Homo sapiens: one gene and its partners. The protein of the gene in region 3 purifies or fractionates together with the protein of the main gene of each other region. This does not show direct contact. Each region holds a gene or a part of one and is shown on either strand. Other genes may lie near its edges.

Region 1 (7,902 bases), on a different chromosome or scaffold from region 3:
CACAGCCCTCACCTTCTTGGCCTCAAGCATTTTCCCCTCAAACACGTAGGAGATGCAGTTGCGCACAACCTCCAGCCGCCGGGCGCTGTTGACATGCAGCCCACTGCACCGCTCCAGTATGGCAGCTGCGGGGACAGAATACACACACTCGGACCCCTGACCCCACGCCCATCCTGGGCCACGCTCGGGGCCTGCCTTCCCCTCCCTCATTACGCACTCATGGGGGGCCCTGAGGGCACGGTGGTCCTCCTCTCGGCCTTCACAGCTGGGGGTGCACCCTGCATCTTGGCTGCAGCCTGGTCCACGATCCACTGCACGGTGCCCTCATCCAGCCGGGGGAAGGGTCGGGGCACCCGTCGCAGGTGGCTGCTCTCACCGGGCCTCTGTACCTTGTGCATCGCCACGGCTGGGTACGGGTTCTCCTGTGGGGAGACGGCAGGTGTGGGGCAGGGGCCCAGGGATCAAGGCGGTACGACGCCCTCCCGTCCTGCTACCCTCGTACGTTCTTGTAGAGCTGCTCTGCCAGTTCCTGGACGTGACGCAGGACACGCTGGGGGTGGTTCTCATCCGCCCGCATCCTTGCCACCTCGTGGGCCACCAGCTAGCGGGGTAAGCAGGAGGTTAGGTAAGCCATGGTCAGGCGGAGCCAGGGCAGGGGGCTGGGAGGGCAGGGTGGAGGTGCACCTCATCGAACAGGTCCGTAGGGCGGTATGGGACCCCACGCTCTGACACAAAGCCAGCAAAGGCCATGCCCTCCAGCACCTTCATCAGGAAATCGTCCTCTACCAGCCCACGCTGGCCCAGGAAGGCTGCCTGGATGACAGAAGGAGGTCGGTCCCTCAGGGGTCTCCACCATGCGCTTATCTCCTACCCCACGCCCAGCCACCAGGCACCCCACCTTATGGAAGCGGATGACAGGCTCCGGGTGGATGCGCACGACGTGCAGGCACCAGCGATAGCCCTGCAGCAGCTGAGCGAACAGCCGCAGGAAGACCGCGCGCAGCTCCTTGTCCTGGGAGAAGAGCTGAGTGCAGGTGAGAGCCAGTCCTGCCAATCCCCACCCCAGGCTGCCCAGGAGCTTCTCCACACCCCAACCCACCCCAAGCTGCCCCGCTCCCATCCTTCTGCCCCTCCCACCATTCTGCACTCAGGGCCACCAGCTCCTCTGAAACTGTCTGGACAAGGCACTCCTGGCTCAGCACCCTCAAGGGCTCCTGTGATCAGACGCCAAGTTCCAGCCCCTTGCTGGGCCCCTGCCGCCTCGCCTGCACCACTCACGACCACCACTCCTAACTGCTGGCAGCTGCTTTGCTCCCAGGCTCCTGCTTCTGCTACTGGAGCCGGGGCCAGCCTGGGGGTGGGGCCCTGTGTGTCAGTGGCAGCAGACCTGAGTGGGGGCAGCCTAAGTGCCTGGGGTCCCCATGCAGGAGCAGCAACGACCCCCACCTGCATCTTCAGGGAGGAGGTGGATGTCGTGGGCGGAGGGAAGGCGAGGTCAGCCAACTCCAGCTCCGGGTCCAGGACCTGCCAGCACAGAATGGAGCAGGCAGCTGCACGCTGGCCCCGGCTCTAGGCTCCCCGTGCTGCCAGGTAGCCACATCCCAAAGGCCCCCAAGGCTCCCGCTTGCCCATGGTGCCCCTCACCATGCTCAGCACACTGTGCGTCTGACTCTGCAGTGGCTCTGGCAAGGGTGGAATGTGCACACACTCAGGAATGGTGACCGTCCCTCCATCCAGATCAGCAACAATCACATCGAGCTGCGGACCAAGGGAGCCGGCAGTCAGGGACCTGCAGGCCTGGGCCGTGAGGTGGACACAAAGCACAGCCCTTACCAGCTCCTGGGTCTCTGCCTGGAAGGCCGCGTTGACCCCAATGATGAAGGGCGTGGGTGTGCTGAGGACCTCCAGCAGCTGAGCCGGCAGGATGGGCACATAGGTGAAGCTGTGCAGGCCCCAGAGGATGCAGTGAGCCAGGGGACGCGGCTGGGCAAAGGGGCCAGGAGAAGGGGCTGGGAGGGCCGGGCAGGGGTCACCTGTATCTGAGAGGAAACAGCAGTGCCAGGAGGCCCCTACAGGCATCGGCGAGCCGCTGGTAGCTCCGGGACAGGAAGAGAACCTTGTGCTCCGTGAGGGCGGCACAGAACAAAGACAGCACGTTGGTGATGCCTAAAGGAAGAAGAGAAGCTTGGAGAGGACCCTGGGCCCCCACCCAGGCAGAGTGAGAACCCACATCCCTAACTACCAGTCCCCGAGGGGAAGCCATGCGGGGGTGGGACAGACAGGCTCACCTAGCTGGCGGAAGAGCAGGGCCACGCTGCAGCGGCTGACGGGCAGCGAGTCGGCCAGTGGAGTCTGGATGACCTGCCGGTCACCAGCCCCCAAAGAGATCGTCCTCTGCAGCAAAAAAAGGATCGGGGCTCAGTAGTTTGGCCAGAGCCAGCCCAGAGTCAGCCCAGAGCTCTGTGTCCCCAGGCAGACCCTGGTGTACTGACAGACCCGAGGTGGGACTGGCTGGGATGGGCAACATGGCAAGAGGGAAACGCCATGCCCTGCCTCTGTTGTCCCAAGCAGCTGCAGAGAAAACTCAGGACAGGAGTGGCTGCTTTTGACTTGGGGGTAGGGATGGGGCCTAGGTGGGCGGAAGAAACAAAGAATCCATACCGCTCCTTCCTCAACAGAGTCCAGCTGCACAGGACAGACGGGCAGAAAGACACGGTTAGACACTCCAACACACCCAGGCACAGGGCAGGGAGCAGACAAACAAGCTGACATCAACATCCAGAGACAGGCACACACCATCAAAGGAGTGGACAGAGAGGCTGAACGACACAGGCCCAGAGCACAGGTGCGAGGGCCAGGTAAGCAGGCCAGGACTGTTGGGGGCAATGGTGGCACGAGGACGCAAGAGGGAGCATCCAAGGCCTCCAGCTGTGTGTGGCTCTGGCTGGGCTCCAAATACCTACCAGGGCCCCAGCAGGAGGGCCTGTGGCTGTGCAGATACCAGCTGCCTCCAAAACTCACCTGCGAGCCCCCAGCCAGGGGCACAGTGCACGTCAGCAGGTTCCCAATCACGTTCTCCAGGCACACATTCAGGCCCTCCACGTGGATGGCATAGATGAGGCCAAGGCTGTTCTGCAATGACCAGAGCGGGGAGTGGTGGGACAGCCGATGGAAGCACCCTCGTCGTGCCTCGCCGCCCCGGCTGCCGGCCTCACCCTGAACACCTCCGTGTGGTCGAGTCGCGACACCAGTACCAGCGTCTTCGGTGCAAACAGCTGGGCAGATGGGGCAGGTGCTGTGGGAGACAGGTGGGTCTGGCCTCCCTCATCCCCCTCTTCCTCCCTCTCTGTGGCATCCTCCACGCGCGTCGTTTCCTGCTGGGGGTCAGGGGGAGACGGGGGCAGGGGGAGTTGGCCACGGCCCAAGGATGCAGCTTCATTCATGCTGTACCCAGAGGCCCCAAGCTGACCTGTGAAGGCTCCGCTGGCTCCCAGAAGGTCAAGCAGGCGCAGTAGTGGCGCTCGGAGTTGATGTCGGTGAGGACAGCAACAAAGAAGGTCGGTGGATTCCTCTCGGGACACAGCTGCCACCCGCTGGGCTGGCAAAACTGCAGGGAAGGCTCAGCAGTCAGCTCCTCCCCCTACACCTGTGGCAGGAACCAGCCCACCCGCCCCAGCATCTGCACCACCAGGCCTGGAGGCTCCAACACACACAGGCAGCTCCTTGCTTGGAGACCCTGGGGACACGTGGCCTCCTGGGCCTCAGTCTCTCCGGGTGAAGGGAGTAACAGCCTCTGACCTCCCCACCTGGGGCAAGGACCAGGAGATGGGAGAACAGTCCCCACCATCATGAGTGAGTGACAACATGACACAGTGACATGAGCACCGCACAGGCCGCCGGCCAAGCCGGTCAAACCCCCCGACAGAGGCTCTGCTGTCTTGTCCCTAGCCCAGCGGGGGGCCGGGCACTGTGGAGGCCCCTCAGTCAGGGACAAGGGCAGGGCTGTGCCCACCTGCCCTCCCCACCTGCCAGCACCGTCTCAGCACGCCCCCAACTCACCAGCTCGATGCCCTGGGGGAATGGGTTGTCCTCCCAGTCCTTCTCTGGGAAGCGCTGCAGAATCTGGCCCTGGCCTTCCCCACTCCCTGAGGACAAGAACAGGGGGTCAGAGCACCCAACCCGCCCCCCACCCACCAGGAGGCTTGAGGATCCCAGGGTGGAAACATTCCCACCCACTGGGCCCTCATCTGGCACCAGATCAGCCACAGCTCCCTAAAAATAGCTCCGTATGGAGAGTCTGCTTGACAGCTGCAGACCCCAGGGCCACCTGAGGGTAGAGAAGCCCCTGCCGCTACACCCCATTCTCCGATCCCACCCCAGAGACCTCCTTCAGCCTGACCAGCCCAGCTTCACACAGCACAGCAGCCCTCCATCGAAGGTCAACACTTCGGGACTGTTCCACAGGCCCCCACAGCATCTGCCACCACCGCCAGGCCCCCACTTAGGCTCTCGGCCCCCCAACAGTGGGCATCCCCCAGAGCTCCCTGTCACCCACCAGCCCTGGACCCAGCCGGGGGTGTGGAGGACTCAAACCTGCTGTCTGTGTGGGGTTCAAGAAGCCTCAGCCCCACAAGGCTAGAGGACACCCCCTGCGCCCACAGCCCCAAACTCTTCCCTATCCCAGCTGCTTCAGAGACAGACAAGTCCCCAGTACAGGTCCCAGAAGATGGGGTTTGGCAGCTCCCTGTTAGAACACCAGCCCCACAGCCAGCAGGACCTAGAGGGGCAGCAGCTAGACGGGAAGGATGGAGACTTGGTCCAGGACGACCACCGAAGGATGCCCAGATGGCTTCCTGAGCACCTGGACCCCAGCAGCTCTCAGAGGAGAGTGGGACGGTGGTCACACCCAGGCCTGCTCCCTGTCTCCAAATCTCCCTGTACAAAGGCCATAGGATGGGTGCTGAGCACAGCCTAAGCTCCCCTGGGCCAGGAGGAGGGCTTTCAGGGCAGGGAGAGCCAAGAGGCCTATGTCTCCCCACCAGACCCCTCCTCTCCGTGGGGCCCCAGAACTACCACATCCAGGGCCCTGTTTCCAGGCCCAGTCCACACCGGTGGGGTAAAGGTCCCTGCCTGTGGCTCACCCCTGGAGAGCCAAACCAGGAAGCCCGGTGGGGACCACAGTGGGACACTCAGGGTGTGGCTCCCGCAGCAGGACGGCTCCGCAGGCCTCCCAGGGCTTGTGGAGGATGGAGCAGGTGCAGCAGGAAAGACGAAAGCCTGCCTGCCTTCTCCTCCACACAAACCGCAGGTCCCCAGGGCCCATCCTCTGTCTGGACGGGCCTCTACACCGCCACCCACCTGGCGGAAGCAGCAGAGCCAGATGGGCAAGGCGGGGGTCATGCTCAACACAGAGCCCCTCATGGACCCCCCACCCCGGCCCCCAAGAAGCTGCAGCCCCACATCCAGCATGCCTGGTCCTCCTGGGAACAGATGAGCAACTCTGGCAGCCCAATGGCACACACTCCACGGGTCCCCTACAGGCGGGGAGACCATCTGCCCTCCAGGGTTACAGGGGCAGAGCCAAGGAAGTCGGCAGTGGGCAGGCTGCTGCTAAGTGGGAGATGGTGGGGCGGTGAGGGGCCGATTCTGACTCACAAAACCTCAGCTTCCTGCTCCCCTCCCCCTCCCACCGACACCCTGCAGAGGACAGGCGGCAGACGGGTGGGGGCCCAGGTGTCTGCGGGTGCCACACCTACCTCCACACCCCCAAGGACAGCTCACTCAGGCGCAGGCCCTGAGCTGCGGCTCCTCCCCCACCCCGCCCACTCCCCCAAAGGCCTCCTTGTGTTTGGCCCCAAACCACCATCTGGGCCCAGCCCTGGCTGGCACCCAGGGCTCACCCAGTTCTTGCCACGAGGCAGCAGGTGGAGGAAGGAAGAGGGGTTTATGAACAGGGACAGCAGTCTCTGCACTGCAGCCTCCCCAAGGCCAGGAAGGGAAGGCAGCCTTCCCCAGGAGGATGGGCAGAGTGGCAGGTCACCATCTACCTTGACCCTCTCCACCCCCCGCTAGTCTTGTGAAGCATCAACTCTCACTCAGCCTTAAGTCCTCTGCAGGGCTCTACCCTCCAAAGAGCCAGCCCTGAGCTCCACTCTCCTTGGGCTGGCCCAATGGCCCAAGTGGGCCAGGCCAAGCAGGCACCTCTCCCTGAGCTCCTCTGTGCCATGACAGCCCCAGACTGGCCCTTCAGGTCTCAGCCCACAGAGCACCCCCTCCCCTGGGAAACTCTGCCCCAGCCTGGGGCCTACAGGGACCCTAGGACCGACCTCCCTCCACCACACCCCAGTGACTGCTAGTGCACCTGTTGGCTTGGCTGGGACGGACCACAGGCTAATTAGGGCTTGTAGAACACGTACAGTCGGCTACACAACCATCCTCCCCACACCCAACAAGCAAACAGGTTCCTCAGTCGGAAGTACAGGGCACCTTCCGGAGCCCCAGGGAATGACAGAACACAGCTGGCCCCTGGAAAGGCAGGCCATGGAGGGCCCTGCAGCCCTCAGCTGTGAGCAGCTCTCCTCCTCACCCTTCTGAGGTCCCAGCCTGCACCTCAGCTCTGTGCTGTCCGGGGCCAGGCCACATCTTGGCCTCCAGGGGGATGTGGGGGGTTTTGCCACATCTTCCCAGGGTCCCCCACCCACTGAAGCTCTATTGCCATAGGAGTGACCTCCAGCAGCTGAGCTCCTTGCCCATCAGAGTGCTGCCTTTACCTCAGAATACACAGGAGGGAGGGTGCCCTCCCCACTCCTCCCCTTGGCAACAGGACGAATCCAAACGGTGTGCTGGGTGGCACTGGGCACCAAGGTTTCCTTGCCACCTCCACCTCTGAACATGGGGCTGAGGGGGCCACCTAAGGACAACACTGGGGCTTCTGTCCTGAAAGCCCCTCAAAGAGCACTCCCTCCTGCACCAATGTCCCTGCGGCCAGCCCCACGCAGACGGCAGGCCTGAAAGGCGGGCGGGCGGGCAGGCGAACACAGACCTCGCGTTCTGTCATCTGCTGGCAGCACCCCATCATCAGTGCCAGGCTCTGACGCCTGGAGGGCTGGCCCAGGCCAGCGTGTGCTGTGGGGAGGCAAAGAAGGATGGCAGCCTCTCCTGTTTCCCCACCACACTCCCCACAGTGCACGAAGACCAGCCCTGGCCGGCTCTGCTGCTTGTGGGGAACCCAGCTATAGGAAAAGAGAAAAGAAGGAAGGACAGCACCTTCCTGCTACGCCACCCACCCAACCCCAACGTGCACATGGCTCCCTCGGCCGCAGCAGCAGGCCATGCGCAGGGCCCCTGCAGCTTCCACAGCCATCCCCCCCAACCTCCCCTGCCCATCAGACCTGAGCAGTTCTGACCCAAGGCCTTGGACCCCTTCCGGCTCCCAGGGTGGAGGCTGGGAGGCAGTTGAGGCCATCCCAAACAGCCCCAACCCGCTCCAGAGGGAGGGCAGGAACGTGGGTGGGGACAGTAGATGGGGCTCAAGAATGCAGCCAGCACATCACAGTCAGGAGGAGAGGCGAGGCCATAGGGTGAAAGGTCTTTTTCTCAGATCCAAGGGGTCCAGCCCCTCCTCCCAGGCAGATGCACACTCAGCTGCTGGAGATGGAAGGCCGATGGCCAGGTCAGGGCCAGATCAAATGTGTCTCCTGTTCTCAAAGACACCTCAGCACTGGCCACGCTGTGATCAGGCCAAGAGCCGGGCAGAGGCAGTCTGTCTAGTCCTGATGCCTGCCCCAGAGCACAGAAGGTGATCCCTGACTCACCAGGTGAGGGGCCTGCAGATGGGCCAGCGCTGGCCACCATCACTCTCTGAGGTGAAAGGGTCACGGCCAGCACAGGCATTTACCTTCT
Region 2 (7,902 bases), on a different chromosome or scaffold from region 3:
AACAGAGTTAACAAAAAGATGACAATACAATTATTACAGGTAACTAAAGATAAAATCTCAACTTTCTAAATACCCAAATTCATTCATTCAACAAACATTTACCACACACCTGAGTTTGGCATTGTGCTAGGCACTAGAGACACAGTGACAAGACAAACACAATCCCTAATCTTATGATGTGTATAATCTTGGGTTTATCATGATGATGAGTATTCAGAATGAGAAACAGGGAGTTCTAGATGGGAGTCAGGGACATCAACTAGGCACAGGAATTGTAATGGGAAAAAGGAGAGGGGGTCAGGGAGGACTTTCCAGAAGAGGTAAGGTTTAGATCTGAAATACAAGTAAGAATCAGATAGGAACAGTGTGGACAGCAAGAGCCAAGAAAAAGAATGGAAATTTTGAGGACTGAAATGAGACCAGAATGGAAGAAACAGAGATGGAAAGGGAAGATGGATGCAGGCAGAGCTAGAGAAACTGACAATGCCATAATCACACAGTATAATAAGGACGGTATTAAACTTTTTAGACCTTATCCTAAAAGCAACATGAAGCCATAGAATGATTTTTCAATCAGAGGAGTGACATCATGATCACTATGGCTATATTGTGGATGAAGAATTGGAGAAAACCAAGGGTCGATGTGGGGAAACAGAGGGCTGGAGTAGTTGGTCAGGACACAGTGTAGTAAGAAAAGATAGCCTTGGATGTGATGGCATATATGAAAACGGTTCCTCAACTAATACTACTCTATTCAGTTAACCTCAACTTTTCTCAGACTTTTTTTTGTGAAAATAATCATAACACACTTTTCAGACTTTTCCGTGAAAATAAATGAATCATACCAGAAGCCATTTTTTACACATGGGAATAAAAAAGTCTTAATTTTTTCAAACTGACTAAGTATTTCAAACTCTGCTATTAGGAATATAACACTGCACTTGAAGCAGAAAATATCATGAGCTCATAGACTGCATTTCAGAATAGACACATTAAATTATTAAATAAAAAATAAGCTTTATAAGGACATCAGCTGTCACTTACTGATCATTTGCTATGTGCTAGGTCATGTACTTTACATGCTTTTTTTTTAAGAGATGAGGTCTTGCCCTGTCACTCAGACTAGAGAGCAGTGGCACGATCATAGCTCACTGCAGCCTCAAACTCCTGGGCTCAGGAGAATCCTCCTGCCTGTAATCCACCTGTAAATAGCTGGGATTACAGGTGCACCTCCCAGCTATGTTTGCATTCTTATTTAACTTTCACCCCAATCCTAAAAAATAGGCACTATTTATTATTATTACTATTATTTAAAGATAATAAACTATGGCCAGGCGGGGTGGCTCATGCCTGTAATCCCAGAACTTTGGGGAGGCCAAGGAGGGCAGATCACTTGAGGTCAGGAGTTTGAGTCCAGCCTGGCCAACATGGTGAATCTCCACCTCTACTAAAAATACAAAAATTAGCTGGGTGTGGTGGCACATGCCTGTAGTCCCAGCTACTCGGGAAGGTGAAGCACAAGAATTGCTTGAACCTGGGAGGCGAAGGCTGCAGTGAGCCAAGATCGCACCATTGCACTCCAGCCAGGGTGACAGAGTGAGACTCTGTCTCAAAAAATACAATAAATAAATAAATAAATAAATAAATATAATAAACTATATTCTGGGCTGGGTGCCGTGGCTCCTGCTATAGTCCCAGCACTTTGAGAGGCTGAGGTGGGAGAATCACCTGAGCCCAGGAGTTCAAGACCAGCTAGGCAACACCTAGGCAACACAGTGAGACCCCATCTCTACAAAAAATTTTAAAAATTAGCCAGGCATGCATAAAAAGGAACAAAATAATGGCACTGGCAGCAACCTGGATGGAACTAGAGACTATTATTCTAAGAGAAGTAACTCAGGAACAGAAAATCAAACATCGTATGTTCTCACTTACAAGTAGGAGCTAAGCTAGGAGGGTGCAAAGGCGTAAGAACGATACAGCGGACTTTGGGAACTCAGGGGAAAGAGTGGGAGGCGAGTGAGAGATAAAAGACTACACATTGGGTACAGTGTACACTGCTTGGGTGATGGGTGCACCAAAATCTCAGAAATCACCACTGAAGAACTTATTCATGTAACTAAACACCACCTGTTCCCCAAAAACTTATTGAAATTAAAACTAAATTTAAAAAAAAATTAGCCAGACATGGTGGGATGCTCCTGTAGTCTCAGCTACTGGGAAGGCTGAAGCGAGAGAATCACTTGAGTCCAGGAGGCTGAGGCTGCAATGAGCCGTTATAGTGCCACTGCACCCCAGCCTGGGTGACAGGGTGAGACCTTGTCTTGAAAAAAACAAAACAAACAGAAAACAACAACAACAACAAAACTATATTCTGGGTCATAAAACAAGTCTTAATAAATTTAAAAACATTCAAGCCATAAAAAATATGTTCTCTAAATTGAGATTAAATTAGAAACCAATAACCAAAAATCTCTAGAGAATTTAAAAATATTTGGAAACTAAATAACACATTTCTAAATAACCCAGGATCAAAGAATAAATCAGGAGGTAAAATAGTATTTTGAACTACATGAAAATGAAAACATAGTATGTCAAAATCTGTGGGATGACACTAAAACAGTACTCAGTGGCAATTTATAGCATTAAACTCCCATATTAGAAAGGAAAAAAGGTCTCAAACCATGGCCTCAGCTTCCACTTTAAGTAGAAAGAAAAGAGGAAATTAAGCCCAAAGTAAGTAAGAAAAAAAAATAAAGATCAGAGCAGAAATAGATGAAATAGGAAACATAAAAACAGAAAGAAAAATTAATAAAACCAAAAGCTGGTTCTCTGAGAAGATCGATAAGATAAACCTCTAGTCAGACTAATCAGGAAAAAAAGAAAAGACGTAAGTTACCAATATCAAAAATGAGAAAAGTTATACCACTACATTCAACATACTAAAAGAATAATAAGGGAATAGTATAAACAACCTTTTGCCAATGAATTTGACAACTTAGATGAAACGGACTAATTCCGTGAAAGACAAGCTACCAAACCTCACTTAAGAAAAAACTGGCTGGGCACGGTGGCTCACGCCTGTAATCCCAGCACTCCGGGAGGCCAAGGCAGGCGGATCACCTGAGGTCAGTAGTTTGAGACCAGCCTGGCCAATACGGTGAAACCCGTCCCTACTAAAACTACAAAAATGAGCCAGGCATGGTGGCGTGTGCCTGTAATCCCAGCTACCCAGGTGGCTGAGGCGAGAGAATCGCTGGAACCCGGGGAAGCAGAGGAGACAGTGAGCCGAGATCGCGCCACTGCACTCCAGCCTGGGCAACAGAGCAAGACTCTGTCTCAAAAAAAGAAAAAAAAAAAAAGAAAAAATAGATAACCTGGCCGGGCACGGTAGCTCATGTCTGTAATCCCAGTGCTTTGCAAGGCTGAGGTGGGAGGACTGGTTGAGTCCAGGAGTTCAAGACCAGCTTAGAAAACATAGTGAGACCCTTATCTCTACCAAAAAAAAATTAAAATTAGCTGGGCATGGTGCGGTGGCACACACATATAGTCCCACCTACTCAGGGGGCTGAAGTGGGAGGATCGCTTGAGCCCGGGAGGTAGACGCTAAGTGAGCCATGATCACACCACTGCACTCCAGCCTGGTCGACAGAGTGAGACCCTGTTTCAAGAAAAAAATAATAATAATAGAAAAAATTAGCCAGGCGTGGTAGCACACACCTGTAGCCTCAGCTACTGGGGAGGCTGAGGTGGGAGGATTGCTTAAGGCCAGGAAGTCGAGGCTGCAGTGAGCTGTGATTGTGCCACTGTACTCCAGCCTGGGTAACAGAGTGAGACCCTGATTTAAAGAGAAAAAGAAAAAATACATAATCTGAATAGTCTTATGTCTATTAAAGAAATTGAATCAATAGTTGAAAACCTTCCCACAAAGAAAACTTCAAGCCCAGATGGCTTCACTGATGAATTCTACCAAACATTTAAGAAATAATACCAATTCTAGACAAATTCTTCTAGAAAACTGAAAAGAAGGGGATACTTTCTAACCCATTCTATGAAACTAGCATTATCACAATACCCAAACCAGAAAAATGCATTAGAAGAAAACTATATACTTACATCCCTCATGAACATGGATGCCAAAATTTTTTTAATTTAGCAAATAAATCTAACAATATATGAACAGAATAATGCATCATGACCAAGTGGCAAAGCTAGTTTCACATTCAAAAATCAATCAATGTAATTGACCATATTAACAAACCTTAAAAAAAAAGATTATTTCAATAGGTGCAGAAAAAAAATTACATTTGACAAAATCCAATATACAATCCAAAAACTCTCAGCGAACTAAGAATAGAAGGGAACTTCCTCAAACCTACAAAGGATATCTGTTAAAATTTACAGACATCATCATACTGGTGAAAGAATGAATGCATTTTCCCTAAGATCAGGAACAAGACCAAAATGTCCACTCTCACCACTTCTAATTTACTGGAGGTTCTAGCCTCCAGGTGCTATCAGGTAACAAAAATAAATTAAAGGAGATTGGAAAGGACAAAGTAAAAACTGTCTTTACTTGCAAACAACATTTTTTTTTTTTTTTGAGACAGAGTCTTGCCCTGTCACCCAGGCTGGAGTGCAATGGCACGATCTTGGTTCACTGCAACCTCCGCCTCCGAGGTTCAGGCGATTCTCCTGCCCCAGCCTCCCGAGTAGCTGGGATTACAGGCACGTGCCACCATGCCTGGCTAATTTTTTTATTTTTAGTAGAGACAGGGTTTCACCATGTTGGTCAGGCTAGTCTCGAACTCCCGACCTCGTGATCTGCCTGCCTCGGCCTCCAATGTGCTGGGATTACAGGCGTGAGCCACTGTGCCTGGCCAACATATTCTTACAAGTAGAAAATCCTACAAAATTTACAAAAAACCCAAAACATAAAAAAACTACTAGAATTAATAAGTTTAGCAAAGTTTCAGGATACAAGGTCAATATACAAAAATCAACTGTGGGTACTAAGAGGGCAGTCATCAAAAAGACAGTAACAAGTGCTGGCAAAGATGTGAAGAAATCAGAAACCTCACACATTGCTGATGGGAATATAAAATGGTGTAGCTACTGTAGAAAAGTTTGGCAGCTCCTCAAAACATTAAACAAAGTTACCATGTGACCTAGTAATTCCACTCTTAGGTATATACCCAAGAGAAACTAAACATATGTTCACACAAAAATCTGTAAAAGAATGTTCAAAGTAACATTATCTGTAATAGCTAAAAAGTAGAAACAACAAATGTTCACCAACTAATAAATGGATAAACAAAATATGATATATCTATACAATATTATTCAGACATAAAAAATAATGAATTGCTGGCCTAGTGCAATGGCTCACGCCTGTAATCTCAGCACTTTGGGAGGCCGAGGCGGGTGGATCACAAGATCAGGAGTTCAAAACCAGCCTGGCCAATATGGTGAAACCCCGTCTCTACTAAAAATACAAAAATCAGCCAGGTGCAGTGGCTCACGCCTGTAATCCCAGCACTTTCAGAGGCTGAGACAGGCGGATCACAAGGTCAGGAGATCAAGACCATCCTGGCTAACACGGTGAAACCCCGTCTCTACTAAAAACACAAAAAATTAGCTGGGTGTGTTGGCGGGCGCCTGTAGTCCCAGCTACTCAGGAGGCTGAGGCAGGAGAATCGCTTGAACCCAGGAGGCAGAAGTTGCAGTGAGCCAAGATCACGCCACTGCAATCCAGCCTGGGCGACAGAGCAAGACTCCGTCTCCAAAAAAAAAAAAAAAGTAATGAATTGCTGATATATGTTTATATGTTACAATAGGGATGAAGCTTGAAAACACTGTAAGTGAAAGAAGTTATTCACAAAAGGCCACATAGCATATAATTCCATTTATAGAAAATGTCCAGAATAGGCAAACTCATAGAATAGATATAGACAGTAAATTAGTAGTTGCTGGGTTGGGGGAAGGGAGGTGGTAATGGATTGGGAGTGACTGACTGCTAATGGATACAGGGTTTCTTTTTGGAGTGATAGAAATGTTCTGGAAACAGACAGCGGTGACAGCTGTACGACATTGTAAATGTACCTATGAACTATAAAGTGTAAAATGGTTAAAATCATAAATTTGATATTTGAATTTTATCACAAAAGCTACCTAAAGAAATCAATTTCATCTCTATATATTAGTAACACACAATCCAAAATTGAAATTATGAAAGCAATCCTATTCACAATAGCATCAAAAAAATACTTAGGAATAAATTAATCAAAACAAGTGCAATACTTGTACACTAAAAGCTACAAAATACAGATGAGAGAAATTAAGATATAAATAAATGGAGAGAAGCTGGACATGGTAGCTGACATGGGAAATCCCAGGGCTTTGAAAGGCCTCAGTAGGAGATTGCTTGAGCCTAGGAGTTCAAGACCTGACTGAGCAACACAGCAAGACCCAGTCTTTACAAAAACAAAAAAATGAGCCAGGTGTGGTGGCGCACAGCTGTAGTTCTCATTACTCAGGAGGCAGAAGTGAGAGGATAGCTTCAGCCCAGGTTCAAGGCTGCAGTAAGCTATGACTGCACCACTGCACTCCAGCCTGGGCAACAGAGCAAGACCCTGTCCATAATTCATTAATGTTTCAACGTTTTAAATGAAGAGAAGTATCATGTTCATGGACTGAAGACTCAATATTGTCAGAATGACAATTCAACACAATCCCTATGAAAATCCTAGCAGGATAAACTTCAAAAACATTATTTGATGTGAAAGAAAACAGATAAAAAAGGTGACATATTATATGACATCATTTATATGACATTTCAAGAAAAGGCAAAATTATAGTGACAGAAAGCAGATCAATAGTTGCTTGGGGGTGGGTCTGCAAATGGGCATAAAGGAAATTTTGAGGATGACAAGGGTGTTCTAAAGCTGGATTGTGATGATGGTTTCACAACTGTATATATTTACTACACTCATCAAACTGCACAGCTGCAATATGTGAATTTATGGCACAGTAATTATGTCTCAATAAGGGAGTTTTTTAAAAAGTAAAGATTCACTTACCATTGTAGCCTTCAAGTACAGAATCAATAATAGGTCTTGCAGTTAAGTTATAAACATCAAGTTGTTTACTCTCTGGTCCAAAAACAGTATCAAAAGTAAATGTCTTTGGAGGTTCATTGGAAGAATCAGTCTTATGTACAGTGATAGTTCCCCTCATCTCATCCACACTGACAGCCTGTTTGTAGCACATTGATTTCTCTCTCTCATTGAGGGGCCGGCACCTAACAACAACCTTCACATTATCGCAGCTTTCTGGCTTCTCTGATTTATTGATCTGTTGGAGATAATATTTACAAATAATGAAAAGAACATTAATTTTTACCCTCATCAGATTAAATTTATAAACTTTAAAAGGCTACTTTTCCAACTCAGTGCCTTGCACACATTAAACACTTCACAGGTATTTGTTAAATGCAATTAAAGATCTTACATATAGCTGAAAAGTTTATTAAAAGATACAAAAAGGAAAATCGTTTCTTTTAAAATGTAAAAGGGAGAGAAGAGCTAGTTCACATTTGTGGCAAAGGCTGTACAAGCAGAAACTGAACCAGTATATTATAGATCATCTTTTTGCACAAAAGTCTCTGACCCAGCGTTTCCTGCCTGTAGGAAAACACATGTGAACATGGTTAACAACTTTAACTCAAGAAAATAGTAGGTCCTTTGTTTCCCCTGAGACTTTAGTTTTATTTCCTATCACGCATCTGTAAAATGGTTTTTATCATGTAATATATCCATATATGGCTTATCTTCTCTACAGAAAACAATAATAAGATAAAGACAGAAATGAAAGTCTAATGGCAAAGAAAAATGCCTTAGTATT
Region 3 (7,902 bases):
CAGATAGGGTGATCAGATATCAGGGGTAGAAGATTCTGTCTAAACTGACTTAGAAGTATTCTTATTAAAACTGGGCTAGGCAGCCCAAAGATAGGATTGGGGCCAGGGTTTGAGGTCTATTCAAGAAGATGGCTCAGAGGAACCTGACTGAAGTTTGGTCAGTGAGAGAGTCTTTTGCTGGTGTGTTGGAATGTTCCTACAGATGCCCAACTACTCAGGAGGCCGAGGCCAGAGGATTGCTTGAGCCCAGGAATTTTAAACCAGCCTGGGCGACATAGTGAGATCCTCTCTCTCTCTTAAAAAGAGTGTTGGCTGGGTGTGGTGGCTTACACCTGTAATCCCAGCACTTTGGGAGGCCAAGGCGGGTGGATCACGAGGTCAGGAGTTCAAGAAGAGCCTGGCCAACATGGTGAAACCCGTCACTACTAAATACAAAAATTAGCCAGGCATGGTGGCGCATGCCTGTAATGTAATCCCAGCTACTCGGGAGGCTGAGGCAGGAGAATTGCTTGAATTGAGGGAGGCGGAGGTTGCAGTGAGCTGAGATCGCGCCACTGCACTCCAGCCTGGGTGACAGAGCAAGACTCCGTCTTGGGGGGAAAAAAAAAATATATATATATATATGTGTGTGTGTGTGTGTGTATATATGTGTGTGTGTGTGTGTGTGTGTGTACATATATATGTGTGTGTGTGTGTATATATATGTGTGTGTGTGTAAGTGTGTGTACATATATGTGTGTGTGTGTGTGTATATATATGTGTGTGTGTATATATATATAGTCAGTCATTATAAATATTTTCCAGCCTCCTGCCTACTTGGACCACAGGCTTTGGCGACTCACTCCACAAAAGGTCCCTTATGGTTAGGAGTCATCTAATTGTTTTCATTGAATACATTCATTGGTAATGTTCCCTTCAGCTGAAACTAAGCTATAGGGAGCATACAGCTAGATTCTCTCTTGTTAAAAGGCATGAGAGGATGCTTACATGAACTGTGGAGGAAATGCAGTGCTACCTAATGATTTTAGGACAAAGGGTATGTGAAGGCCAGTGTGTTTTTCAAAGTGATTGGGGGAAATAAAGTTTTTTTTTTTTTGCCCCTTATTTAATTTCTGAAGTCATGCATGATTTAGAACCTGTCTTTTTTTGTTTGTGAACTTCAGTGCAGTAGTGTGGTTGACGGTAATTTTGAAGAAGTTCCCAGGGAGACGGCAATTCAGTTTAAACCTCCACTATACAGACAGCGGTACCAGTTCGTTAAAAATTTAGTGGATCAACATGAGCCTAAGAAGGTAGGTATTTCTCTTTCCAAACATTTAATTATTAAGACTAGTAGACTAGTCATATGAGGTGTTTTGTCAAATGGATTAGTATGGAGAGACTTTTCACAGGGGTTATTGCAATAGGGAGAATGCCGTAACCACAAGATCTGCAGGTGTCTCAAGAGTTAAGCAAAAGGGGTTTTTCTTTTACTGGAGAAGTGAACAAAGCTAGAAACTAGGGAGGTGGGATGAGAGGGTGGTTTGAAAGGACAGTGGAATGGGGAGCCTTAAGGAGGGGGCTGTTTCCTCAGGCTGTAGTGCAGGGCCCTGGGGGAAGAAGTAAAGTTTGAATAAAGTATGGTTAAAAAAGGAATTTTCTTCCCATTGATCAGTGGGGACAAGTATTCATGATAATCATTTGAGGCAAAGAATGGAAACACAAGGAATCTTATCTAAGTTTTATGGAGGAGGGTGGTTTTTTGCAGTGAGCCCTTTCCTGGAACACAAAGCACAGGTGGATTCCTTTAGCAGATGCCAGAAACACAGGGCTCAGACAGAATTCAGCATTGTCAGGTTCAAATGTGAAGAAAATCTTAAGATTTTATAGTTGGATGTGATCTTGTAGGTACCGTACTTCTAGAGCATTTAGTTAGAATATCAGGCAAACTGGTATTGTAGCCACAGGTATTGTGGTTCTTTTAAAATTAGATGATAATGGGCCGGGTGCAATGGTTTACACCTGTAATTCCGGCACTTTGGGAGGCTGAGGCAGGTGGCTAGCTTGAGACCAGCCTGGCACCATAGTGAGACCCTGTGTCTACAAAAAATAAAATTAGCTGTGCATGGTGGTGCGTGCCTATAGTCCCAGTTACTCAGGAGGCTGAGGTGGGAGGATCCCTTGAGCCCAGGAGGTTGAGGCTGCAGTGAGCTGTTATCACCTGCATTCCAGCCTGGGCAACAGAGAAAGAGCCCGTCTCAAAAAGAAAATTAGATCATAATGAACCTACTCGGTTAACTTCAGAGTAAAGTCATAATTGCATATAATCTACATCCATCCATCCATACCTGGTTACTATACTAATGGATTGGATGTGAATTAGATGCGGGTAAGGTGAATTTCTAGATGAAAGCTTTCTTTTTCTGCTTGATGTTGAAGACTCAGTGAAGATTCCTGTGTGTGAAGGTTTCCCTTAACTCCACCACTACTGTTTCTACACTTGGACACAAAGGCGTAGGTATTAGTTTATATCTTTGTAGCCATCTAGGCATGTGTATTCAGGTAAAGCATCTAAAATTGGCTTTTTGGCAGCTCAGAGTTCAGTATGGAATTTCAGATGGTTTGAGGTAATTGTTTAATCAAATAAATGTGTGAGGGGTGAAAGCTAAGTTTTAGAAAGCTTTGTTTGCTGAAATATGCTGAGAATATTTGACTCCAAATTCTGATTCTGAATGGGAAAACTGTGTGTACGTAATTGTTTCTCATTAGTTCAATATAGACAATAACAGTTGTTCTGGAATAGGAATGGACCTTTCTATTTTAGTGTGATCAAATAGAAATTTGCCTATGGGCTTATAAAGTTTCAGGTTAGTGTGTGTGTGTGTGTGTGTGTGTGTGTGTGTGTGTGTGTGTGTAGCATCTTCTGCCAAAAAGATCCTTCCATATAATACTTTCATTATTTTATTACTGATATATACTCCACTCTCTCCTCCTCAAAAAAAAGTTTTTGATCATACTTCTCTTGCTATAAATGTCTTTGAAATAACATTCTGTCTCATCTACAGGTTGCAGACCTGGGATGTGGTGATACTTCACTCTTAAGGCTGCTAAAAGTCAATCCATGCATTGAATTGCTTGTTGGAGTAGATATTAATGAGGATAAATTACGATGGAGAGGGTAATACTTAGTTTCTGAAAGAATTATGCGTTAATCTAAAACTAATGGCATTATTGAGTTTAGAGAAAGTGTTGATTTTATATTTGTTTTAAAAGATTGGGGCCATTAGGGATCTTCAACTCACTGAATAATCAGGCTTTGCCATAACACTAAAAATACCTGCATTTTATTGCTACCAACTTAAAGAATAGCCTCAATTAAATGATTATAATAATCAAAGCATTGTAAATTAAAATTCAGATAGCAAAATCTCATCACTTTAATGCTGGACACTATGATAATTTATAGCAGAGGATTTAAAATGCCCCAGAACACTGAGGCCAAGGCTCCAGGCCACCGCCTGCATTTTGAACCATAGCATTTCTCCTATCTCTTGTATATATAGTATATATACATTAGATTTCCACAGATTGCTTCAAGAATATTCTTTTTCTAAAGAACAAAAATCTCAAAATCACTGAATCAAAGTAAGCTGGAAAACCAAAAGTATTACAAATGAAAACAATATAACAATATTAAATATTCAGTCTTTTTTTCATTGGCCAGTAACTTCCCACTGTGAGAGGAAGTTTCCCCATGACCTGGTCTTTAATATGTCAAGACAAGGAAAACAGGCTGTGTCAGACTTATATCAATAGAGGTAGAAGATAATTATCAGAGGATCTGAGTTCTGTAGCTGGTGAGAATTTTTAAATAGATAATGTTCAGAAAGTTTCTTCAATAATTATTTTGCAGGGATTCGTTAGCTCCTTTCCTGGGGGATTTTCTGAAACCTCGGGATCTGAATTTGACCATCACATTGTATCATGGCTCCGTTGTGGAGAGAGACTCTCGTTTGCTTGGATTTGACTTGATAACGTGTATTGAATTGTAAGTTTTAAACTGATACACTGTATAACTGTTCATTTGAAAAGCCTGAATAAGTCTCAGTGATCTTAGTGTCCTAAATATAATAGGTCTTGATTATTGTAAGGAAAACTGCTCATTGGTTGGGAATATCTTTTTACTCTGCTTTTCCAACATTTTACTTAGAAATTTCAAGTATACAGATAAATTGCCACAAATACATAGTACCAAGAATACCTATACCCCCCTTTATCCAGATGTTAACATCTCACTTTTTAAATCATTTGTACATTGCACCCTCCCTCTCCTGTTCACCCCTCCTCCATCTCCCTTTAGAGTTATTTTTTTTCCTGAATCAATTAAGGGTATACACATGGCCTTTTGCCTCTACTAAAAAATTCAGTTTAAAAGTTGGAGGCCTCACACTACTTGACTTGAAAATGTACTACAAAGCAGTAGTAATAAAAACATCGTGGTTCTGGTATAAAAACAGAGACATAGACCAATGGAACAGAATAGAGAGAACCCAGAAATAAATCCATGCATTTACAGCCAACTGATTTCAACAAAGACACCAAGAACATACATTGGCAAAAGGACACCCTCCTCAATAAATGGTACTGGGAAAACTGCATATCCATATGCAGAATGAAATTAGACTCCTATCTCTCACTGTATACAAGCATCAACTCAAGATGGATTAACGAGTTAATTGCAGACCTAAAACTATGAAAGTACTGGAAGAAAACAGGAAATGCTTCAGGACATTGGTCTAGGCAAAGATTTTGAGTAAGACTACAAAAGCACAGGCTACAAACAGAAATACACAAATGGGAATATATGAAACTGAAAGGTTTCTGCACAGCAAAGAATAGAGTGAACAGAACCTATAGAATGGGAGAAAATACTTGCAAAGTATTCATCAAGGGATTAATATCTAGAATATACAAGAATCTCAACAGCAAAAAAACCCCAAATAAAAAGTGGGCAAAGGACCTGAACAGATATTTCTCAAAAGACATACAGATGGTTAACAAGTAGATGAAAAAATGCTCAACATCACTAGTCATCAGGGAAATGCAACTCAACCACAGTGAGATATCTCACCCCATTTAGAATGGCTGTTATTAAAAAGACAGTAAATGCTGGCAAGGATGCAGAGAAAGGGAACTCATATAAACTGGTGTGAATGTAAATTAGTACAGCCGTTATTGAAAACAGTGTGGAGGTTTTTCAAAAAACTGAAAATAGAACTGCCATGTGATCTAGCAATCCCACTACTGGGTATTTATCCAAAGGAAAGAAATCAGTTATATTGAAGAGAGATGTGCACCCCAATGTTTATTAACAGCACAGTAGCCAGGATACGGAATCTACCTAAATGTCCATCAGTAGATGAATGGATAAAGAAAGTGTGGTATTTAGGCTGGGCATGGTGGCTCACGCCTGTAATCCCAGCACTTTGGGAGGCCGAGGCAGGTGGATCACCTGAGGTCAGGAGTTCAAGAGCAGCCTGGCCAACATGGTGAAACCCCGTCTCTAGTAAAAATACAAAAAAATTAGCTGGGCGTGATAATGGGCCCCTGTAATCCCAGCTACTTGGGAGGCTGAGGCAGGAGAATCACTTGAACCTTGGAGGCAGAGGTTGCAGTGAGCCAAGATCACGCCATTGCACAACGAGCAAAACTCCGTCTCAAAAAAAAAAAAGGGATGTATATGCACAATGGAATACTATTCAGCCCTAAAAAAGGAATGAAATTGTCATGGATGAACCTGGAGGGCATTAAGTGAAATAAGTCAGGCATAGAAACACTGTTGCCTGGGCTGGAGTGCAATGGCGCGATCTCGGCTCACTGCAACCTCTGCCTCCTGGGTTCAAGTGATTCTTTTGCCTCAGCCTCCCGAGCAGCTGGGATTACAGGTGCCTGCCACCACACCTGGCTAATTTTTTGTATTTTTAGTAGAGATGGGGTTTCACCCTATTGGCCAGGCTGGTCTTGAACCCCTGACCTCGTAATCTGCCCACCTCGGCCTCCCAAAGTGCTGGTATTACAGGCGTGAGCCACTGTGCCTGGCTGGTTTACAATTTTCTTGTGAATTGCATAGAAGCTCAGCCCTCTGTGAAGCATTTTTGTCAATGTCTAGTTTGCTTAGGACACACTGACTTAGATGGGATGGCAGCAAGACTTTGTCAGACCCGGTTTTGGTAACATTTAATTGTTATATAATTGCAAATTTACAGAAGTTGCAGGAATGGTCCAAGGAATTCTCATCTGTTCTTTACCTAGATTTACCACTTATTTATATTTGATCCTATTTACTGTGTCTTTTTCCCTAAATATAACTTTCTACGTGTATTTTTTATCTGAACCATCTCAGAGTAGGTTGGATACACTGTGTCCTGTTACCCTAGATACCTTGGTATGTATATTCTGAGAACAAAGACTTCTTACCATAACCATGTAATTCTATCAGGAAATTGAACATTGATACAGTACGATTACCTAATCTAAGTCCACATTCAGCATTCATCATTTGTTCCAGTAATGTCTTTCTATAGCTATTTTAAAATTTAGCTATAATTTAAAATGGCCCAAGATCACACAATGCATTTGTCACGTTTGCCTGGGCTCCTTTAATCTGAAGCAGGTCTGTGCAGCCTTTCTGCCTGGTCCTATTTGCCCTTGATATTTCTGAAGAATATGTGCTATTTTCTAGAATGTCGCTGTATCTGAGTGTCTCCTCATTATCAGATTCAGGGCATGCATTTTTGACAAGAATATCATAGAAGTGATTTTGTCCTCCTTGATGCATTATATCAGGGAGGTATAACCTCAGAGACTTTTTTTTAGAGGTATTGATAATGAGGCCATAGAGCACAGCAAAGGACCTTGGTTGGATAAGGGAGCCATCATAGATGGAGTTGGGGGGTAGGAAAGGATGAGAATATATGAATAATTGTTCTTTTTCCCCCTCCCCTCCCCTCCCTTCCCCTCTCTTCTCTTCTCTCTCTTTCTCTTTCTTTCTGTCTGTCTCTCTCTCTTTCTTTTCTTTCTTTCCTTCCTTCCTTCCTTCTTTCTTTTTCTTCTATCTTTCTTGACTGAGTTTTGCTTGTCACCCAGGCTGGAGAGCAATGGTGCAATCTTGGCTTGCTGCAACCTCTGCCTCCTGGGTTCAAGTGATTCTCCCGCCTCAGCCTCCCGAGTAGCTGGGATTACAGGCATGCACCACCACACCCAGCAAAATTTTGTATTTTTAGTAGAGACAAGGTTTCATCATGTTGGCCGGGCTGGTCTTTAACTCTTGACCTTGGGTGATCCATCCACCTTGGCCTCCCAAAGTGTTGGGATTACAGGCGTGAGCCACTGTGCCTGGCCCGAATAATTGTTCTTAGGTCATATAAGCATTATTACATATTCAAAGAAGGGAGAAATCGATACACAGATGGAAATTGTTTTTGATAAATCAATTAGAAAAATAGGTGCAAGTGAAGCTAGATTTTATTATGTCTTTCTCATTAACCATTTTAGAATAGAACATTTGGATTCAGGTGATCTGGCCAGATTTCCTGAAGTGGTATTTGGGTACCTGTCTCCATCCATGATTGTCATCAGCACACCAAACTCTGAATTCAATCCCCTGTTTCCATCAGTGACCTTAAGAGATTCAGATCATAAATTTGAGTGGACCAGAATGGAGTTTCAGACCTGGTAAGTTCAGAAGGGTTTTTGTTTATTTGGGATCCTGTTGGAGTTTAAAATCTTAGGAAATAAATATTGATATACATACATTACCTAAATTGTTTTGTACTTTCTTCCAATAAAATTGATTCCAATGTGTGACTTAGTATGTAATAAGATCACAAAGGAACCATTGCATTTGGGCAAGTGTGGAAAGGG
Region 4 (7,902 bases), on a different chromosome or scaffold from region 3:
GTAGAGACGGGGTTTCACTGTGTTAACCAGGCTGGTCTCTATCTCCTGACCTCAAGTGATCCACTTGCCTCAGCCTCCCAAAGTGCTGGGATTACAGGCATGAGCCACCATACCCGGCCAAATTTCTGTTTTTGTACATCAAAAATGATGAATACAGAAATTTCATATGCCTTCATTCAATATATATCTCAAAGAGAGCACAAAATAGCACCATAGCACCCCACCCCACCTAGCAGGCCTGATTCTTCTGCTCAGATATGTAAGCCATTTACTGGAGGAACAAAATGGAATTAAATCTTTAAAACTATAGCATGCTCTTGCCTCTTTTCTGTCTCCTCTTTCGAAACATATACTGAGAATATTTTTCAGGGTTCAAATTCCACCAACCTATGCATGCACAAAAAGCTCAGTTCCATAATATAGATAGTTAGATATTTTCTGTGACTAGGAATATTTCATTAAAAAAATCACATCATGAATATAAACATTTTGTACATTTTGATGTTCTATAAGAGAGCACCCTCATCTCTTAAGTAACTACTTATAATAAATTTTAAACCCCTGAACATGACACAGCATAAAGCTGGTGACTGCTCATTCCTCAGCTGCTCACCTGGTACCTCATACGAGTGAGTATAGAGACTCCGGCCCCCATCCACATCCACCGACTGTCCAGTGATGAAGGAAGCTGCAGGAGACAGTAGGAAGCAGACCACAGAGGAGACCTGGAAACAGAAACACACATGTGCATAGGTAAAAGCAAATACTCCCCATTTCTAACCGCCTCACATTCCCCAGTAAAGGCATCTCAAAGCCCATGATTGTAACATGAATCCAACAGTGTGTGCATGTGCACCACAACCTCACAGTACATAGACAACTTCCTTTTCCTACAATTTCCCTTTCTACCTGAGCATCACCGAAATCAGGTAGGTGACTAGGGTAAAGGTGGCAAGGTATGAGGGAGCCTTAGACGATGTCAAGCAAGCTACATGACGTCAAGAAGCCATAAGTGAACTCAGTGCTTCAGCTCTGCTCTTTCCCATTTCAAACAATTCACTTCCTTCCATGCCTTTCATTGTCCTCCACAACCCCATTTTCCATCACTACCTCGTGCCTTTTATGTTTTGGTCCCTGAAATAGTCAATGTGTCTGTTTAGCAATAAACTAGCATTCTGGTTTGTTCAGTCTGCGGTCCTGTCAGGCCAAAAGCCCAGCAACACACATTCAAAGGAGCTCTCTACAAGAGGAACTTCAAAAACTTAGCCAGGCACAGTGGCGGGCACCTGTGGTCCCAGCTCCTTAGGAGGCTGAGGTGGGAGCATTGCGTGGGCCTAAGAGGTTGCAGTGAGCCAAGACTGCACCACTACATTCCAGCTTGGGTGGCAGAGTGAGACTCCATTTCAAAAAAATAAAAATAAAAATAAACCAAAGGCACTTCAGACTCCCACTGTACTCCTTAAAAATTCAAATAGGGAACTGATGAGTTCAGCAACATCTACTCCCAACCCAAACAGAAGGAAGTTATTTCACTGACTTGTAAAGGAGCTCTCACTTGAGGCTGTGGGAAGAAGCAGAGTTTCTCAAAGGGTGATGATCCAAAACACCTGCATTAGAATCACTAGGGATGCTTACTGAGACTTCAGATTCCTAGATCCTTCCAGGATCATTGCAATTGTAAGCTCTGGGGTTGGGGTCCCAGAATCTGCAGTTTAAAAGGCCCCCAGGCAGGGCCAGGACTAGGGTGAGGCAAATAAGGTGTCGAGGGTGCAAGATTTAAGGAGGTATTCACTCTCAGGTTTGCACAAGTGCAAAATCTTCCCTCAGAGGGAGTGGGTCCTTAAATTTTGTGTCCATGCCTTGCTTGCCTCATCCCAGTCCTGGTCCTATATTCACAAGGCTATACCTCCTTGAGACTCTAAGAGCTTGGAGAGCAGCCAAGCCTTCTCTCCATCCTTGTATTCCCAGCAGCTAGTACAGTGCTGCACTATCTAAAACGAGGCCATTAGACATAGTCGCCTACTCAAACACTTTCAGTATGACTGGTCCAAATTGAGACGTGCTGTAAGTATAGAACACACACTGGATTTTGAAGACTGAGTATGGGAAAAATAATGTAAAATATCTCATTAATCCTGGATGCTCCGAGGGATGAAGAAAATCATCTCAATTTTCCATGTTGATTACATGTTGAAATGACGATGTTTTGGATGTATTAGGCTAAGTCAAATATATTATTAAAATTAATTTCACCTCTTTTTACTTTATGTGGCTCCTGGTAAGTTTAAAATTACAAATGTGACTATTAGTATATTTCTACTGGACAGGGCTGGTATAGAATTCACTATTTAAAAGGTCCCACATTACTGTGAAAAGGCAGATTGTACTGAGACATGGTAACAAGCAACAGAGCTGGTTTTAACCCTGTTTGATCCAGTAGTGACAACTCAGCCAATGAACATGTTTGTTAAAGTCAGCGCATCAAAAAGAGACTTGCTCCAATGAGCTCCTTTCTGAAATGCCATCCAGACAACAACCATCCCACCCAAGTAGTCACAACCTCTAACAATCTGTAAACCACACTCCCTCAAAAACACAAAAAACCGGCCAGACGCGGTGGCTCACGCCTGTAATCCCAGCATTTTGGGAGGCCGAGGCAGGTGGATCACCTGAGGCCAGGAATTCGAACCAGCATGGCCAGCTTAGTGAAACACTGTCTCTACTAAAAATACAAAAATTAGCTGGGCATGCTGGTGCATGACTGTTAATCCCAGCTACTCAGGAGGCTGAGGCAGGAGAATCGCTTGAACCAAAAAAAAAAAAAAAAGTTTTTGTTTCTTTTTTTAAATGTAGCTATTTTAAAGTAAATGTTATTTATGTTAACATGTACTCCTTTATTACTATTTTAAAATGAATTAATAATATTTCTTAAATTTTGGTTTTAATTTCTAATACAGCAAATATAGATAATGTAAACCACATAAAGTATATATATATACATACATATATATATATATATATTTTTTTTTTTTTTTTTTTTGAGAAGGCGTCTCACTGTCACCCAGGCTGGAGTGCAGTGGCGCAATCTCTGCTCACTGCAACCTCCGTGTCCCGGGTTCAAGCAATTGTCCTGCTTCAGCCTCCCAGGTAACTGGGACTACAGGCATATGCCACCATGCTTGGCTAATTTTTGTATTTTTTAGTATAGACGGGGTTTCGCCATGTTGGCCAGGCTGATCTTGAACTCCTACCTCAAGTGATCCACCTGCCTTAGGCTTCCAAAGTGTTGGGATTACAGGTGTGAGCCACTGTGCCTAGCCTCCCAAAGTATTCTATCAAAAATAAAAATGTAATATAATTGCCTTGATTAAAATTCATTAAATATTACTCTTAGTTTTCAGAATACAAATCCAAAGACCTTGGTTAACATGGCTCATCAAATGTTTGATTTAACAGTATCTTCCAAAATACAATGCAAGTCTATTTTGGTTCAGGAACTCTGTTTCTAGAAACATATCCCCTCACCCAAGAGTACATGATTATATTCATAATGTTCATTGCAGAATTACTGCAAGAACAAAAATATAAATAAAATCCAAATCATAATGGGATTTGATGATATTATAGTATACCCATAACAAGTTTCAGAAAATAACACAGAGTAAATTCTGTTTTCGTAAAAAAGTCAATAAATAGGCCAGGCGTGGTAGTTCACGCCTATAATCCCAGCACTTTGGGAGGTTGAGGCAGGTGGATCACCTGAGGTCAGGAGTTCAAGACCAGCCTGACCAGCATGAAGAAACCCTGTCTCTACAAAACTAGCCAGGTGTGGTGGCGCATGCCTGTAATCCCAGCTACTCTGAAGGCTGAGGCAGGAGAATCGCTTAAACCCAGGAGGTAGAGGTTGTGGTGAGCCGAGATCGTGCCACCGCACTCCAGCCTGGGCAAGAAGAGTGTAACTTCGTCTCAGGAAAAAAAAAAAAAAAGTCAACAAATACAAATTTTTAATGCATGCAAAGTACATTTCTGGAAAGACATTCACCAAACTGATAATAAAAGCTAGTTCTAAGCATGATAACTCTTTTAAAGAGTTTCATGGGCTTGCTTTTATAATTATCACTTCAATAAATCTGAAAGTTATTTTGTATATAATACAGGATAGGGAGTCTAATTTATTACTAAACGGCCAAATGCCCCCAACACTTTGCTGAGTGTTTTATCCTTTCCTTACAGATTGAAATGCTACTTTGACTCCATAAACTCCCACATATGGTTCCAATTCAAGAATCTGTTCTGTTCTACTATTTTTAATATGTTTCATTACCAGCACCAGATGCTGTAAATAAATACAGCTTCATAGTATGTAAATACACAGTACATAAATAAATATAGCTTCATGGTTTCATTATACCATGAAGGGTAATCCTCCCATTATTCATTTTCAAAACATTTTTGGCAATTTTTGCATACATATTTTTGATAGAATCAGCGTGTTAAATTCCCAAAAGATATTAAATTTATAATTTAGGGAAACCTGACTTTTTAATAAAATTGGTTCTCCCCATCAAGGAATATTATATGCCCCTAATCTGGTCTTTTTGCTGCTTCACAGAAAAAGGGGTTTTTTTGTTTTGTTTTGTTTTTTTCATTTATGAAACTGATGCACTGCCTACTGCCCTAAGGAGGCAGGTGATTTTTTTTTTTTTTCATTTAGAGGTAAGTTTACTACTAGTTATTTTCATTTTTATTATTGTGGGAAAGACATCCTTTTCTTTTCTTTATTTTATTTTATTTTATTTTTTGAGATAGAGTCTTGCTCTGTCGCCCAGGCTGGAGTGCAGTGGTGCAATCTCAGCTCACTGCAAGCTCCGCCTCCCGGGTTCACACCATTCTCCTGCCTCAGCCTCCCCAGTAGCTGGGACTACAGGTGTCCGCCACCACACCCGGGTAATTTTTTTGTATTTTTAGTAGAGGCGGGGTTTCACCGTGTTAGCCAGGATGGTCTCGATCTTCTGAACTCGTGATCCGCCTGCCTCGGCCTCCCAAAGTGCTGGGATTACAGGCATGAGCCACTGCGCCTGGCCTTGTTTTCTTAAAAAAAAAAAAAAAAAAAAATTGCATTTCAAGACTGATGCAAAGCTAGGTGTGGCGGCTCACACATGTAATCCCAGCACTTTAGGAGGCTGAGGTGGGCGTATCACTTAAGGTCAGTAGTTCGAGACTAGCCTAGCCAACATGGTGAAACTTCGCCTCTACTAAAAACACAAAAATCAGTCAGGTGTGGTGGCATACATCTGTAATTCCAGCTACTCGGGAGGCTGGGGCAGGAGAATTGCTTGAACCCAGGAGGTGGAAGTTCCAGTGGGCCAAGATCGCGCCACTGCACTCCAGCCTGGGCAACAAAGAGACTCTGTCAAAAAAGTCATCGTCTTCATCATCGTCATCATCATCATCCCAGCACTTTGGGAGGCCAAGGTGGGAGTTCAAGCCTGCAGTGAGCTATGATCGTGACACTATACTTAGCCTGTAACAGAGTGAAACACTGTCTCAAGCAAAAAAAAAAAAAAAAAAAAAAACCGCTGCTGGCAGTTTGGAAAGCTGCTGATTTTACAGACTTCAACCTTAACCGAAATCTCATGTGGAACTTCATATGGCCATAGTTGTCTAATTTGCTTAGGGTCCTGTGTACCAACAAATGCCATGTAATAAAATAATGTAGCTGAAAATACAGTAAAACAAACTAACAAAAAAAATGCTGTTATTAATTTATACCACATTCACTCTCAAGTACAGATTGCTGTCAGTAGCCAAAGCACAACCAGAATATCCCTGACAGCCAGAAAGAACAGGGGAAATGTTCTGCTGGCAGTGGGAGAAATAATGTCGTCCAGACCGCATAAAAATGACACTGAATTACAAATTCCAAAGTATAACACACAGCAATTCTAATCAATGCTGGAAATATACCTTACCTCCTCAGGAACACCAATTCGTTTAGCGGGGATTTTCTGAAAAGACCCTTCAAAGAAGCTTTGTCCCCAGGAACCATAGTTCTCCACAGCAGTCTGGGAATAAATAACTCCCTGTGTTTAAAAATAAAACAGGGACAAAATAAAGTGTATTATATTAAATTTTAATTATAAAGATATCAAGATACTCTACTGGCATTTCAAACATTAAGTAGCTTAAGTCAAAAAAAAGTTAACAGTGCTGATATTAAATTTCCTCCATGTTGTCAAAGAAGTACAGTCCCCACCATCCACAAATGGATGATCTGAATAGTTATTTTGTGACCTCCTCTTCCTCCTAACCATGCCCTGGATTTTTTCATGAAAGACTTGTTTTCTGAAGGTCATGATTGTGTAAGTAAATGAAAGAGGCACTTAACTGGGAACAATGGGACAGGGGACTCTGTCTATTTTAGTTTCCATTTGGCTTCTCTGCTTTACAAGAGAAGACTGGGCAATGGCTACGTGAGACTTAGAAAAATGCAATATTTTCTTGGCTTTTTACCTAGATTGAAATCGCAAATAAAGCATTTGAGTCCAATACCAATAAACTAAATTTTTCATTGTTTAGGAATTTTTAAATGTATCTTTCACTGGCTTTCTAAGGTCAGGAAAATTACTCAAAAACTGTATCCCAGGCCAGGTGCAGTGGCTCATGCCTGTAATCCCAGCACTTTGCGAGGGTGAAGCTGGAGGATTGTGTGAGCCTAGGAGTTTGAGACCAGCCTGGGCAAAATAGGGAGACTATGTCTCTACAAAAAATATAAAAAAGAATTAGCTGGGCATGGTGGTACCTGCCTGTGGTCCCAGCTACTCAGGAGGCTGAGTTGGGAGGATCGCTTGCGCCCAGGAGTTCGAGGCTGCAGTGAGCCGTGATCGCACTACCGCACTTCAGCCTAGGCAACACAGCAAGACCTTGTCTCAAACATTTAAAAAAAAAATTGTATCTCACAGGATACAGCTATTTGTAATGGATTCAAACTGTTGAATTATGGAGAGAAGGGGCGGAAAGAGAAGTTAAAATAAAATTAGAAAATGTGGCAGTTTTAATAACTTCAAATGATACTGATACTGGAGAGATATATTGGTTTCCAATTACATAATATGTTGCCTTTTATTTAAAGAGGATAAAATCTAGAAGTATTAAAATTTGATCATTTAACCAAAAAAGTCTCTGGAAGGCAAACATGAATTAATATTAGTAGCAACACCTTTGTCAGAGATGAGATTACTAACTTCATGCTTGAAGTCAGTCATGCATAGTCTTCATTGAGTGGCACAGATAACACCTACTGATATTACAGAGATAAGATCTATAGATAGGCTGGGCGCAGTGGCTCACGCCTGTAATCCCAGTACTTTGGGAGGCAGACGTGGGTGGATCACGAAGTCAGGAGATCGAGACCACGCTGGCTAACACAGTGAAACCCCGTCTCTACTAAAAATACAAAAATTAGCCAGGGGTGGTGGCAGGTGCCTGTAGTCCCAGCTACTTGGGAGGCTGAGGCAGGAGAATCACTTGAACCCAGGAGGCAGAGGTTGCAGTGAGCCAAGATCACGCCACTGCTCTCCAGCCTGGGCAACAGAGCAAGACTCCTTCTAAAAAAAAAAAAAAAAAGCCAGAATCAAGAATCACTGGTTTAACATTCTTGACAATCTGGCTGTAAATCAAAGAGTACTTCCATAATGATAATTAGACCTTCTGGGCCGGGTGCGGTGGCTCACATCTGTAATCCCAGCACTTTGAGAGGCCATGGCGAACAGATCTCCTGAGCTCAGGAGTTCGAGACCACCCAGGGCAATATGGTGAAAACCCATCTCTACTAAAATCCAAAAAATTAGCTGGGCATGGTGGCTTGTGCCTGTAGTCCCAGCTACTTAGGAGGCTGAGGCA

Evidence for each region.
Region 1: the proteins of HENMT1 (region 3) and SBF1 purify together in Homo sapiens (affinity purification with mass spectrometry; 2 studies listed by BioGRID and IntAct, with this or other methods). This does not show direct contact.
Region 2: the proteins of HENMT1 (region 3) and KIF3A purify together in Homo sapiens (affinity purification with mass spectrometry; 2 studies listed by BioGRID and IntAct, with this or other methods). This does not show direct contact.
Region 4: the proteins of HENMT1 (region 3) and PECR purify together in Homo sapiens (affinity purification with mass spectrometry; 2 studies listed by BioGRID and IntAct, with this or other methods). This does not show direct contact.

The regions. Positions count from the first base shown.
Region 1 is NC_000022.11:50,464,317-50,472,218, forward strand, and holds part of SBF1 (myotubularin-related protein 5), read right to left. Parts: intron 4,146-7,902; coding exon 4,060-4,145; intron 3,608-4,059; coding exon 3,470-3,607; intron 3,378-3,469; coding exon of another isoform or gene 3,375-3,377; coding exon 3,216-3,374; intron 3,133-3,215; coding exon 3,022-3,132; intron 2,395-3,021; coding exon 2,289-2,394; intron 2,167-2,288; coding exon 2,034-2,166; intron 1,943-2,033; coding exon 1,834-1,942; intron 1,759-1,833; coding exon 1,645-1,758; intron 1,525-1,644; coding exon 1,447-1,524; intron 1,013-1,446; coding exon 899-1,012; intron 814-898; coding exon 685-813; intron 602-684; coding exon 503-601; intron 423-502; coding exon 218-422; intron 126-217; coding exon 13-125; intron 1-12. UniProt on the Homo sapiens protein: Acts as an adapter for the phosphatase MTMR2 to regulate MTMR2 catalytic activity and subcellular location. Promotes the exchange of GDP to GTP, converting inactive GDP-bound Rab proteins into their active GTP-bound form.
Region 2 is NC_000005.10:132,727,126-132,735,027, forward strand, and holds part of KIF3A (kinesin-like protein KIF3A), read right to left. Parts: intron 7,354-7,902; coding exon 7,080-7,353; intron 1-7,079. UniProt on the Homo sapiens protein: Microtubule-based anterograde translocator for membranous organelles. Plus end-directed microtubule sliding activity in vitro. Plays a role in primary cilia formation. Plays a role in centriole cohesion and subdistal appendage organization and function.
Region 3 is NC_000001.11:108,650,841-108,658,742, reverse strand, and holds part of HENMT1 (small RNA 2'-O-methyltransferase), read left to right. Parts: intron 1-1,163; coding exon 1,164-1,292; intron 1,293-3,044; coding exon 3,045-3,157; intron 3,158-3,892; coding exon 3,893-4,027; intron 4,028-7,533; coding exon 7,534-7,713; intron 7,714-7,902. UniProt on the Homo sapiens protein: Methyltransferase that adds a 2'-O-methyl group at the 3'-end of piRNAs, a class of 24 to 30 nucleotide RNAs that are generated by a Dicer-independent mechanism and are primarily derived from transposons and other repeated sequence elements.
Region 4 is NC_000002.12:216,043,291-216,051,192, forward strand, and holds part of PECR (peroxisomal trans-2-enoyl-CoA reductase), read right to left. Parts: intron 6,084-7,902; coding exon 5,973-6,083; intron 726-5,972; coding exon 614-725; intron 1-613. UniProt on the Homo sapiens protein: Participates in chain elongation of fatty acids. Catalyzes the reduction of trans-2-enoyl-CoAs of varying chain lengths from 6:1 to 16:1, having maximum activity with 10:1 CoA. Has no 2,4-dienoyl-CoA reductase activity.